3 linked regions of the Homo sapiens genome follow. The protein of the gene in region 2 purifies or fractionates together with the protein of the main gene of each other region. This does not show direct contact. Each region holds a gene or a part of one and is shown on either strand. Other genes may lie near its edges. The genes, in order: MAPKAPK5, ZNF577 and CHAC2.

Region 1 (3,654 bases), on a different chromosome or scaffold from region 2:
CATCTGGTGTAACATTACAAAAATACATCCTCATTTCTGTCTGACTTTTTTGCTTTTCCATTTCTCTAAAAACATTTCTATACAATACTAATCCTTCTTCCACCATTTGCTTTCACTTCAGTGCCAGTATCACAGAAGGTTCCATTCCATATTCCATAAACAAAGCTAAAGGAAGTCTTGAATAATTGGAACCCTTCTGGCAAATTGTCTAATGTCAATTTTTTCCTGCCCCTGTTTCTTGTACATCTTATTCCTTACTGTCTGGCACAGAAGCACTCATCTCCATCAAGTCATCTTCTATTAATTCCTCAGGTGTGGTGTCTATTAGCTCTTGAATTTCTCCAAGATCTGTACCTTAAAACTCTTCACCCTTCACCTTTTTTGCCATATCCACAATCTCTTTCATGATTTCCTTAACCAGCTCTGTCATAAATCCTATGAAGTCACGCACATCTGGACAGAGTTTTCTCCACCAGGAATTTATTGTTTCAGGCCTGATGGCTTCCACAGCTTTTTCCATAACAATGGCATCTTCAGTGGTGTAATCCCTCTAGACTTTCACTACATTCTATCAGGATTCTCTTCCTTGGTGTTAACAATCTTTTCCAGAGTATCCCATGTAATGAGTCTTGAAAGTCCTGGACCAGGTGCGGCAGCTGAAGCCTGTAATCCCAGCACTTTGGGAGGCTGAGGCAGGCAGATCACTTGAGGCCAGGAGTTCGAGACCAACCTGGGCAAAATGGTGAAACCTCATCTCTCCTAAAAATACAAAAATTAGCCAGGCATTGTGGAGCATGCCTGTAATTCCAGCTTCTCGAGAGGCTGAGGCATGAGAATTGCTTGAACCTGGGAGGCAGAGGTTGAAGTGAGCTGAGATCACCCCACTGCACTCCAACCTGGACAACAGAGCCAGACTCTTTCTCAAAAAGTCCTTGAGACCTCCTGATCTACAGGCTGGATTAGAGACACTGTTTGTGGACAAGTAGACCACTTCAAAGCCTAGTGTTGAACTCATGGGATTCTCAGTGGCCAGGGGCATTGTGTCAAAAAAACTTTAAAAGGCAGTCCTGGCCGGGCACGGTGGCTCATGCCTGTAATCCCAGCACTTTGGGAGGCCGAGGCAGGCGGATCACTTGAGGTTAGGAGTTCAAGACCAGCCTGGCCAACATGCTGAAACCCTGTCTCTACTAAAATACAAAAATTAGCTGGGCGTGGTGGCAGGCAACTATAATCCCAGCTACTCGGGAGGCTGAGGCAGGAGAATGGTGTGAACCCAGGAGGCAGAGCTTGCAGTGAGCCGCGATCGTGCCACTGCACTCCAGCCTGGGCCACAGAGCGAGACTCCTCTCAAAAAAAAAAAAAAAAAAGAAAATGGGTTCTCATTATCCAGGCTTTCTTTTGGTAAAAACAGACTGGCAGCTGGTGTTTTATCTTCTCCCTTGAAGGCTCAGAGGTTAGCAGCTTTATAGACCAGGGTAGTCCTGATCATAAACTTGACTGTGTTTACACAAAACGGCAGTTAACCTAGCTCTTCCTGCCTTAAATCCTGGCACTCACTGCTCTTCCTTACTCATAAATGTCCTTTGTGGCATTGTTTTCCCCAGAACAGGGCATTTTTGTCTGCATTAAAAACCCATTCAAGCAGATATCCTTTCTCCTCAATGATTTTCTTAATGGCATCTGGGAACTTGTTTGCCGCCTCTTGGTCAGCAGAAGCTGCTTCTCCTGTTACCCTGACATTTTTTTAAGCCAAACCTCTCTACAGTTATCAAACCATCCTTTGCTGGCATTAAATTCTCCAACTTTAGATCCTTTACCTTCCTTTTAAGACACAATGACTTTTTCTCGAAAAATATTAGAGTCTATAGTTATGCCTTTCTTATAGCACTCTCGCACCCACGTAAAAGCTGCATCTTCAATATGAAATAAAAAGGTATTTTGGCCAGGCACAGTTGCTCATGCCTGTAATCCCAGCACTTTGGGAGGCCGATGCAGGCAGATCACAAGGTCAGGAGTTCGAGACCAGCCTGGCCAACATGGTGAAACCCCGTCTCTATTAAAAAGACAAAAATTAGGCGGGCATGGTGGCACCCACCTGTAATCCCAGCTACTTGGGAGGCTAAGGCAGGAGAACTGCTTGAACCTGGGAGGCAGAGGTTGCAGTGAGCCAAGATCACGCCACTACACTCCAGCCTGGTCAACAGAGCAAGTCTCCATCTATGAAAAAAAAAAGGATATTTCACAACCAGTCGTGGTGGTTCATGCCTATAATTCTAGCACTTTGGAAGGCCAAAGTGTGACGACTGCTTGAGCTCAAGAGCTGGAGACCAGCCTGGGCTACACAGTGGGACCCGTGTCTCTACAAAAAAAAAAGTTATTTTAATTAGCCAAACATGGTGGTAGACACCTGTGGTCCCAGCTACTCAGGAGGCTGAGGAGGGAGAATCACTTAAGCCTAGAAGGACATGGCTGCAGCGAACTGTGATCGCATCACTACACTCCAGCCTGGGTGATGGAGTGAGACTGTCCTAACAAAATAAAAGAAAAAGAAAAAAATGTGCTAAACTGGACTTCATAAAATTTAAAACCTTTTGCTCTTCAAAAGACACCATTATAAAATGAAAAGATAAGCCACAGACTGGGAGAAAATATTTGCCAATCACATAGCTGATAAATGACTTTTATTCAGTTTATAAAGAACTCTAGGCCAGGTGCGGTGGCTGACGCCTGCAATCCCAGCACTTTGGGAGGCCGAGGCAGGCAGATCACAAGGTCAGGAGTTTAAGACAAGCCTGGCCAACATGGCAAAACTAAAATTTTTAGTCTCTACTAAAAATACAAAAATTAGCTAGGCATGGTGGTGGATGCCCATAATCCCAGCTACTTGGGAGGCTGAGGCAGGAGAATCACTTGAACCCGGGAGGTGGAGGTTGCAGTGAGCCAAGATCGTGCCATTGCACTCCAGCCTAGGCAACAAGAGCAGCAAGACTTTGTCTCAGAAAAAAAAAAAAGAAAGAAAAAAAAAAGAACTCTTGGCCAGGTGCAGTAATCCTAGCACTTCAGGAGGCTGAGGCAGGCAGATCGCTTGAGCCCAGGAGTTCAAGACCAGCCTGGGCAACATTGTGAGACCCCATCTCTAAAAAAATTAATAAAAAAATAAATAAATAATCCTATAACTCAATAAGGCAAAGAAATCAATTTTAGGCTGGGCATGGTGGTTCACATCTGTAATCCCAGCACTTTGGGAGGCCAAGGCAGGCGGATCACTTGAGGTCAGAAGTACGAGACCACCTGGTCAACATGGTGAAGACCTCATCTCTACTAAAAATACAAAAAATAAATAAAAAAATAAAAATACAAATACAAAAAATTAGCTGGGCATGGTGGCGCATGCCTGTAATCCCAGCTACTTAGGAGGCTGAGGCAGGAGAATCGCTTGAACCCCGGAGGAAGAGGTTGCAGTGAGCCAAGGTCGTACCACTGCATTCCAGCCTGAGTGACAAAGCGAGACTCCATCTCAAAACAAAAAAAAGCAATTCTAAAACGGGCAAAAAGAGGCCGAGCACAGTGGCTCATGCCTATAATCCTAGCATTTTGGAGGCCAAGGTGGGCAATCACCTGAGGTCAGGAGTTCAAGACCAGCCTGGCCAACAT
Region 2 (4,277 bases):
TGGTTTTAATCATTTGAAATGTATTTAGACTTGCCTGATGGCCAACCATACGGTGACTTTTTATAAATGTCCTATGTGCATCTGAGGAAAATTATTGAGTGCAGTGTTTTATATTGGTCAAGTTTGTTAATTAGGTATGTCATTCTAACCTTTCAGGGGTTGGGACTATTGTGGGTTAGCTGAATGTTTTTGTAAATAATGTTTTATCAGAACACAGCCACACCCATTTGTTTACACATTCTGTACAGCTACTTTCATTCTATAATTGCAGAACCTAGTAGATGCAGACAAGACCATTTAGCCGGCAGAGACTAAAATATTTGTCATCTGTCTGCACCTTTACAGAAAGTTTGCCAGCAATGGTTAATCTATACCCTTTTAGCTTTTTGTCTGCCTGTTCTCTCAGTTACTGAGAGAAGTATGTTAAGAATTTCCCATTATGATTGGGCATTTGCGGTTTCTCCTTGTGTCTAGCATACTCCATTCCTCTATACTTAACACACTAAGTATATGCTCTATTGACTTTTTTTTGAGATGGAGTTTCATTCTTGTTGCCTAGGCTGGAGTGCAATGGCATGATCCCAGCTCACTGCAACTTCTGTCTCCTGGGTTCAAGTGATTCTCCTGTCTCATCCTCCTGAGTAGCTGGGATTACAGACACCCGCTACCACGCCCTGCTAATTTTTGTATTTAGTAGGGATGGGGTTTCATCATGTTGGCCAGATGTCTCGAACTCCTGATCTCAGGTGATCTATCCGCCTCAGCCTCCCAAAGTGCTGGGATTACAGGCGTGAGCTCTCATGCCCAGCCCTCAATAGAACTTTTATGCACCAAAAGACATGTAGAAAAACGTTCATATCAACAATACTCATAACTCCCATAAGCCATAACAATGTCTCTTGATAGTGGAATGGATAATATGGGGTATAATCATCAATGGAATACTACACAGTAATGAAAAAGAAACGAGCTACTGCTATATGCAGCAACTTAGATGATTTTCACAACAAAAATATTAAGCAAAAGAAGCCAGCCACAAAAGAATGTGTACCTTAGGATTTCATTTATATAAAGATGACAACCAAGCACATCTATGATGTTTTTAAGATAATAATTACCTTTGGAGAGGAGAGAGAAGATGAGGGCTTCTGGGATGCTACATTATTCTATTTTTTTAACCTGGTGATTTTCAAGTATAATCACTTGAAAAAAACTTAAGAGACCAATTTCTCTTATAAATGTATAGGCAAAAAAATTTTTTAACTTTCTACTATGAAAAATTTCAAGCAAAAGAACAGTATACTCAAATTCCACATATTCATCATGTGACTTCAAGAATGACGAACTCACATCTAATTTTGTTTTATCTATACCACCATTCAGTCCCTCTCCAGCAATGGATTATGGATTATTCCGAAGCTAATCCAAGATATCTTTTCATTTTTTGATGCAAAAATATTAAATAAAATTTTAGCAAATAAAATCCAGTCTCATATTAAAAGAACAAACCATTATTGACAAGTATGGTTTATTCCCTCAGGAATACATGAAATTGGGAAATAGAGCAACACAAATCAAAGAAAATTTTAAAGAGAAAAAAATAAATGAAAATAATTGTAATGGTCAAAAGCCCTTAGGAAAGAGAAATAAAAACTTGATAAATCACAGTAATTATTTATTCAGACCATACTACGTACCTAGTACTACACTTTGAACATACTTAAAGAACATTTGCTCACTTAATCTTCATAATGATTCCATGAAAAAGAAACTATGACAGCTTTTTTCCACAAATAAGGAAACTGACTCAGAGATTAACGTACCCAAGTCAGAGGCAGAGGCAGGTACTTCTTACTCCACAGTCCATACACTTGCCACCTGGCTAAAATTATTTGCAGATGACAAAAATGCTCAACTAGAAAAAAGACGTCAATTTATAAGTTATATGTAATGACATGAGTACAATGAAGTGACAGAATAAACATATATATTTTTAACTTCTGTTCTTGTCAACTAAGTAAAATTAGGAACAAAAAAGGAAAGGGGGAGGGGTCTTATGCAAAAAAAAAGTCACGATTTACAACAAAAAGTATTAACTATGTAGAAATAAGCATAACCAGAAATGTCCAAGATACGTATGGAAAAACACTACAGATAGTCAAACAAATAAAAATATTGGGTTAATAGAAATCCATCACATGTTCCTGAAAGTGTTGTATCTAGATCTACATCAATTCTACCCAAATTAAAGCAACCACTTGATGAAACTGCAGCAATTTAAAAAACTCTCAAAGAGCATGTAATATGGGAATACGAAGTTGACAAGATGTTATTAAAGACGAATAAAATTATACCAATACCTAGACACCTGATCCCAACATTAAACATGAAATACACTAAACCAGAGTTATTTTCTGGAGGAGTATTTAAAATGATGGGGATGTTATTACTTGGGTCGCAATGAACCTGAAAACCCATTTTCTACAGAATATACAGCAGCAGGGAAGCAAGGGGACCAGCAGACCCCTTTTTAAGTACGCATGTGATAAGCAATGAACACGAACTGCCCAGAGCAGTCTCCAACACTGACACGATTCGCTTCCCCACCACGACGCCCTAGCGCTACTGTGCAACGAAGACCTCCCAAGCACTGGTTCCAATGCGGAGACCATGGGCTCCCAGACTCTGGGAACTCCAACACGACTGCGAAACGAACTCCGAGCGAGGACTCCCCGAGAGCTCCCCGCAACACGGACCTCACGCGCTAGCGAACAACAGAAAAAAAAAAGCGCGCTCTCCCTGCCCCTGAAACATTCCCAGAAGCCCACGCAGACCAGACCGATGACCTGTCTCCACTGCTGGAGGCGAGTCAGGGACCCGAAGTCTCTAAACACTCGCCTCTACCCGCCGCCCCGCGAACCCCACACACTGCAGACGCGACACTCGCAAGTTTCGGGGATGGCGGCCGGCGAGGGCCATACTGCGTCTTTCCGGAGACACGGAATACGGCACCAGCCGTCCCTTTATGATGCAATATGTCTGCGCCCAGGGGACGCTTGCTGGGAGCAGCCATTTTCAACCCTACTGCCGTAGAGCAGGCGGAGTCCCTCTTTTCGCGCCTTAAGACAGGTAGGTTCTGACGATGAAAAGCAATTGAAAACGACCCATTTCACCCTTTTTCCAGTCCACGTGAACTGCTAGATCTTGGCTTTGCAACATTAGCCAGGGGCGCTACATAAACTGCTTAGTTTCTCAAAGGCTCAAGCCTGCCCTGATCTGTCTACAGGATGGGTAGAGATGGTCACAGACATTTAGGCACTTTGATCCTAAGAAGAATGGAAAGAAACCATGTGGCGCGGCAGTCTTACAGGAATTTCAAGAGGGAGGGACCTGAGCAACAATCGGAGGGGTTATTACTCCTGAGGATGCATCTGGCTGGAGAAAGCAGCCTTTGAGAACTGCCTAAGAAGTATCTTTACATCTACATCAGATGTAGCCTCAGAGGAAGGAGTCAGTCATAGAATGGATAAAACAACCGCGTGTTAAAGCTTTGGTTATAATTGGTGTGGAGAATGGAGAACACAGTTGATCAGCAGTTGACAAAGTGGGGAACCAACACGAAAACAGGGCTCTCTCACCCTGGAAAAGCCAAAGGCAGAACAAGCCTTTACATCCAGGAAGGTGGGAGCAACTTGAAATCAAAACTCTGAAGGGGAGATGATTCTGTTCAATACTGAAACTCAGCTGATCAATTAACTGATGAATTCTAGCACCAAACCTGCTCCCTATAATTTTATAACCAGCCTCAGAGAACCTTTAAAGGGATTGATCATTCACTCATTTATCCAGCGAATGTTTATAAAATGCCTAATGTGTCAAACACTGTTGTGCGTGCTGGGAATACAACAGTTGGAAATTCAGGCACAAAGACTCTCATTCATGGAGATTACATTCTACTGGCAATTTCAGTGTGTGAGCTAAATTGAGTGGTGCTAACTGTTGACTTGGCTGGTTGACTGAAACTTGGACTCAAAATTTGCCTACACTAAATGAAGTTTAAATGCCAGAAATTTCCTCATATATTATAAAGTACCCAAAGATAAATGGAGTTTGGAATGCTAGAATGAATTTATCATGTAAAATCAAGATTACCCATACCTCAAATATGTATTCCAGTAGCATCTAGAAGACAATCTCTTCACTGACACTGATCTGGTCACAGGAAATAGAGATATACTACTGTAAGATTATTTTATTATACAGTAAGTGATATAATG
Region 3 (2,600 bases), on a different chromosome or scaffold from region 2:
CAATAAAGGAAATAAGCACTTTAAAATCTCCATTGTGAATAATTTCTTTGTATCATAGGCACAGCAAGATATTTTATCTTAAAAAAATTTTTTTTTAATTTGGTCTTTTTCTTTAATAACGGGACTGAAATGAAAAATATGAGCCTTTCACTTGGTCATTAAAAAATTCTAGAAACAAAGTGCCATTTGTTTATTAACTGTTTAATTAGGAGTTATAAGTTACCAATTTGAAGATCTTTTTTATAAATGCTTTTCGTAGTATCAATTATGAAAGCATTTCCTAATCCACACCATTATTTATCTGCCATTACTAACTGCTTGATTTTTGTTTATTAAAGTCCTTTCCAAAGTTAAACATTTAATTTCACAATATAAAATTCTGAATCTGTACCCCAATAAAATGACTGAAAATATTTAAGAAACTGAGGATTGTTGGTTAAATAAAACTTTCTGGTGCTCCAAACCAGTTTTAAAATCACAGGTTCTACTGGGGTCTACGGGAGGGTGGAGGGTGGGAGGAGGGAGAGGATCTAGAAAAATAACTAATTGATACTAGGCTTAATGTTAATACCTGGGTGATGAAATAATCTGTACAACAAACCCCCATGACACATGTTTACCTATGTAACAAACTTGCACATCCTGCACATGTACTCCTGAACTTAAAAACAAAAACACAAAACACAACACACAGGTGCTATTGATACAATTAAGCAATAAAGAAAATAAGAATTCCTCACTTAGATTTCTGCTGAAAATGAGACTGGTAGCAAAAGTGAAGAGAGCTTTTAAGGGTTCCATTTAATTCTCGGTGGTAGTCTGGCTGTCGGGGGCAGGTATTTCCGTTAATGTCAAAGGGGACCACAAAATTCTTAGTTAATAAACTTGTTTTTAAAAAAATCCCACGGCTGGGCGCGGTGGCTCATGCCTGTAATCCCAGCACTTTGGGAGGCCAAGGCGGGCGGATCACGAGGTCGGGAGATTGAGACCATCCTGGCTAACACGGTGAAACCTCGTCTCTACTAAAAATACAAAAAATTAGCCAGACATGGTGGCGGGCGCCTGTAGTCCCAGCTACTTGGGAGGCTGAGGCAGGAGAATGGCGTGAACCCGGGAGGCGGAGCTTGCAGTGAGCCGAGATCGCGCCACTGCACTCCAGCCTGGGCGACAGAGCTAGACTCTGTCTCAAAAAACCCCACAAAAACGAAAACTACATGCTATTTGTCTGTACGTTGTTGTCTACCTTGCACTCTGCATTCTAACTTTTCTTATTGGCCTCAGTTTTCACAAACACAAAAAAAACCCACAAATACAGAGAAGAATTCTAAATTTAGGGTAGTTCAAATTGTCTGTGATGATTGTTAATCAAATTGAAACAGAAACATCGCAACATTTTATAAAATTAAAATTATACAAAAAAGAATATTTATACCATACCGCAGGATCTTCAACAAGAGTCACAACTCTTCCAGGCTGTTTTAAAAAGGTAAAAAAAAATTTTTCTGAATTAATAAAGTTCATTAAGTAGCTGAGCATTAGCAACATTTTTGACATGGAATATTTGAATTATATTTGCTCATAAGAAGCACTATTTCTTAAGCATAGTTATTTTTTATGATAAAGCTTAAGTGAATTAAGAGAACCTACCTTATCTAGAGACTGTGTTGGCCTTTCTAAAAGATTTCCATCAATTTATACGTATTAGGTATATTATATTCACTTTACATGGATATATTGGAAAACATACCAGTAACTAAAGGTCATCTAAAATGAAAGGCAAATGGAAGCAGTAATTATAAATATTCTGGTTTTTCCCTTAAGGAAAAAAGAATGTTATAGTTTTATTTATTTATTTATTTATTTTTTGAGACGGAGTTTTGCTCAACAAGCCCAGGCTGGAGTGCAGTGGTGCGATCTTGGCTCACTGCAACCTCCAACTCTCGGGCTCAAGCAATTCTCTCACCTCAGCCTCCTGAGTAGTTGGGATTACAGGTGCCCGCCAAGACACCCAGCTAATTTTTGTATTTTTAGTAGAGACGGGTTTACCATGTTGGCCAGGCTGGTATGGAACTCCTGACCTTAGGTAATCCACCCGTCTCGGCCTCCCAAAGTGCTGGGATTACAGGCGTGAGCCACCGCACCCGGCCTATAGTTTTATTAGGGGAAAAAAAATATGACATAAAGGGTGCTTTCCTATATATAGGGAAGTGACTTTCAAATTTAGTGGATCAAAATGACCTAGAGGGCTTGACAAAGACATTGTTAGGCCACACCTCCAGAGTTTTTGATTCTGTAGGTCTGGAGCTGTCTAAGAATTTGCATTTGTAACAACTTTCCTGCTGATTTCAGAAATTGTTCTGGGGCTCATACTTTAAGAACCACTGCTACCAGGGGATATTAAGAGGTTTTAAGTGAGAGAGAATGAGTGATTTACACTTCTGAGTTATGAAGTGTTCTTACCTTTCTGTATATGGTAATGGTGCTTCAAGGTAGGCATTTCTTTTACATTCATAAATGAACTTTACTTTGCCCTATTTAAAGGTCAGTATTAGAACTGGCCTATTCGTGTAGTTCTTATATGGGACAATCAGACCACTTGT

The links.
Region 1: the proteins of ZNF577 (region 2) and MAPKAPK5 purify together in Homo sapiens (affinity purification with mass spectrometry; one large-scale study listed by BioGRID and IntAct). This does not show direct contact.
Region 3: the proteins of ZNF577 (region 2) and CHAC2 purify together in Homo sapiens (affinity purification with mass spectrometry; one large-scale study listed by BioGRID and IntAct). This does not show direct contact.

The regions. Positions count from the first base shown.
Region 1 is NC_000012.12:111,848,613-111,852,266, reverse strand, and holds part of MAPKAPK5 (MAP kinase-activated protein kinase 5), read right to left. Parts: intron 1-3,654. UniProt on the Homo sapiens protein: Tumor suppressor serine/threonine-protein kinase involved in mTORC1 signaling and post-transcriptional regulation. Phosphorylates FOXO3, ERK3/MAPK6, ERK4/MAPK4, HSP27/HSPB1, p53/TP53 and RHEB.
Region 2 is NC_000019.10:51,884,998-51,889,274, forward strand, and holds the start of ZNF577 (zinc finger protein 577), read right to left. Parts: upstream 2,955-4,277; 5' UTR 1,824-2,954; intron 1-1,823. UniProt on the Homo sapiens protein: May be involved in transcriptional regulation.
Region 3 is NC_000002.12:53,770,780-53,773,379, reverse strand, and holds part of CHAC2 (glutathione-specific gamma-glutamylcyclotransferase 2), read right to left. Parts: intron 1,474-2,600; coding exon 1,438-1,473; exon of another isoform or gene 1,436-1,437; coding exon of another isoform or gene 1,433-1,435; intron 1-1,432. UniProt on the Homo sapiens protein: Catalyzes the cleavage of glutathione into 5-oxo-L-proline and a Cys-Gly dipeptide. Acts specifically on glutathione, but not on other gamma-glutamyl peptides.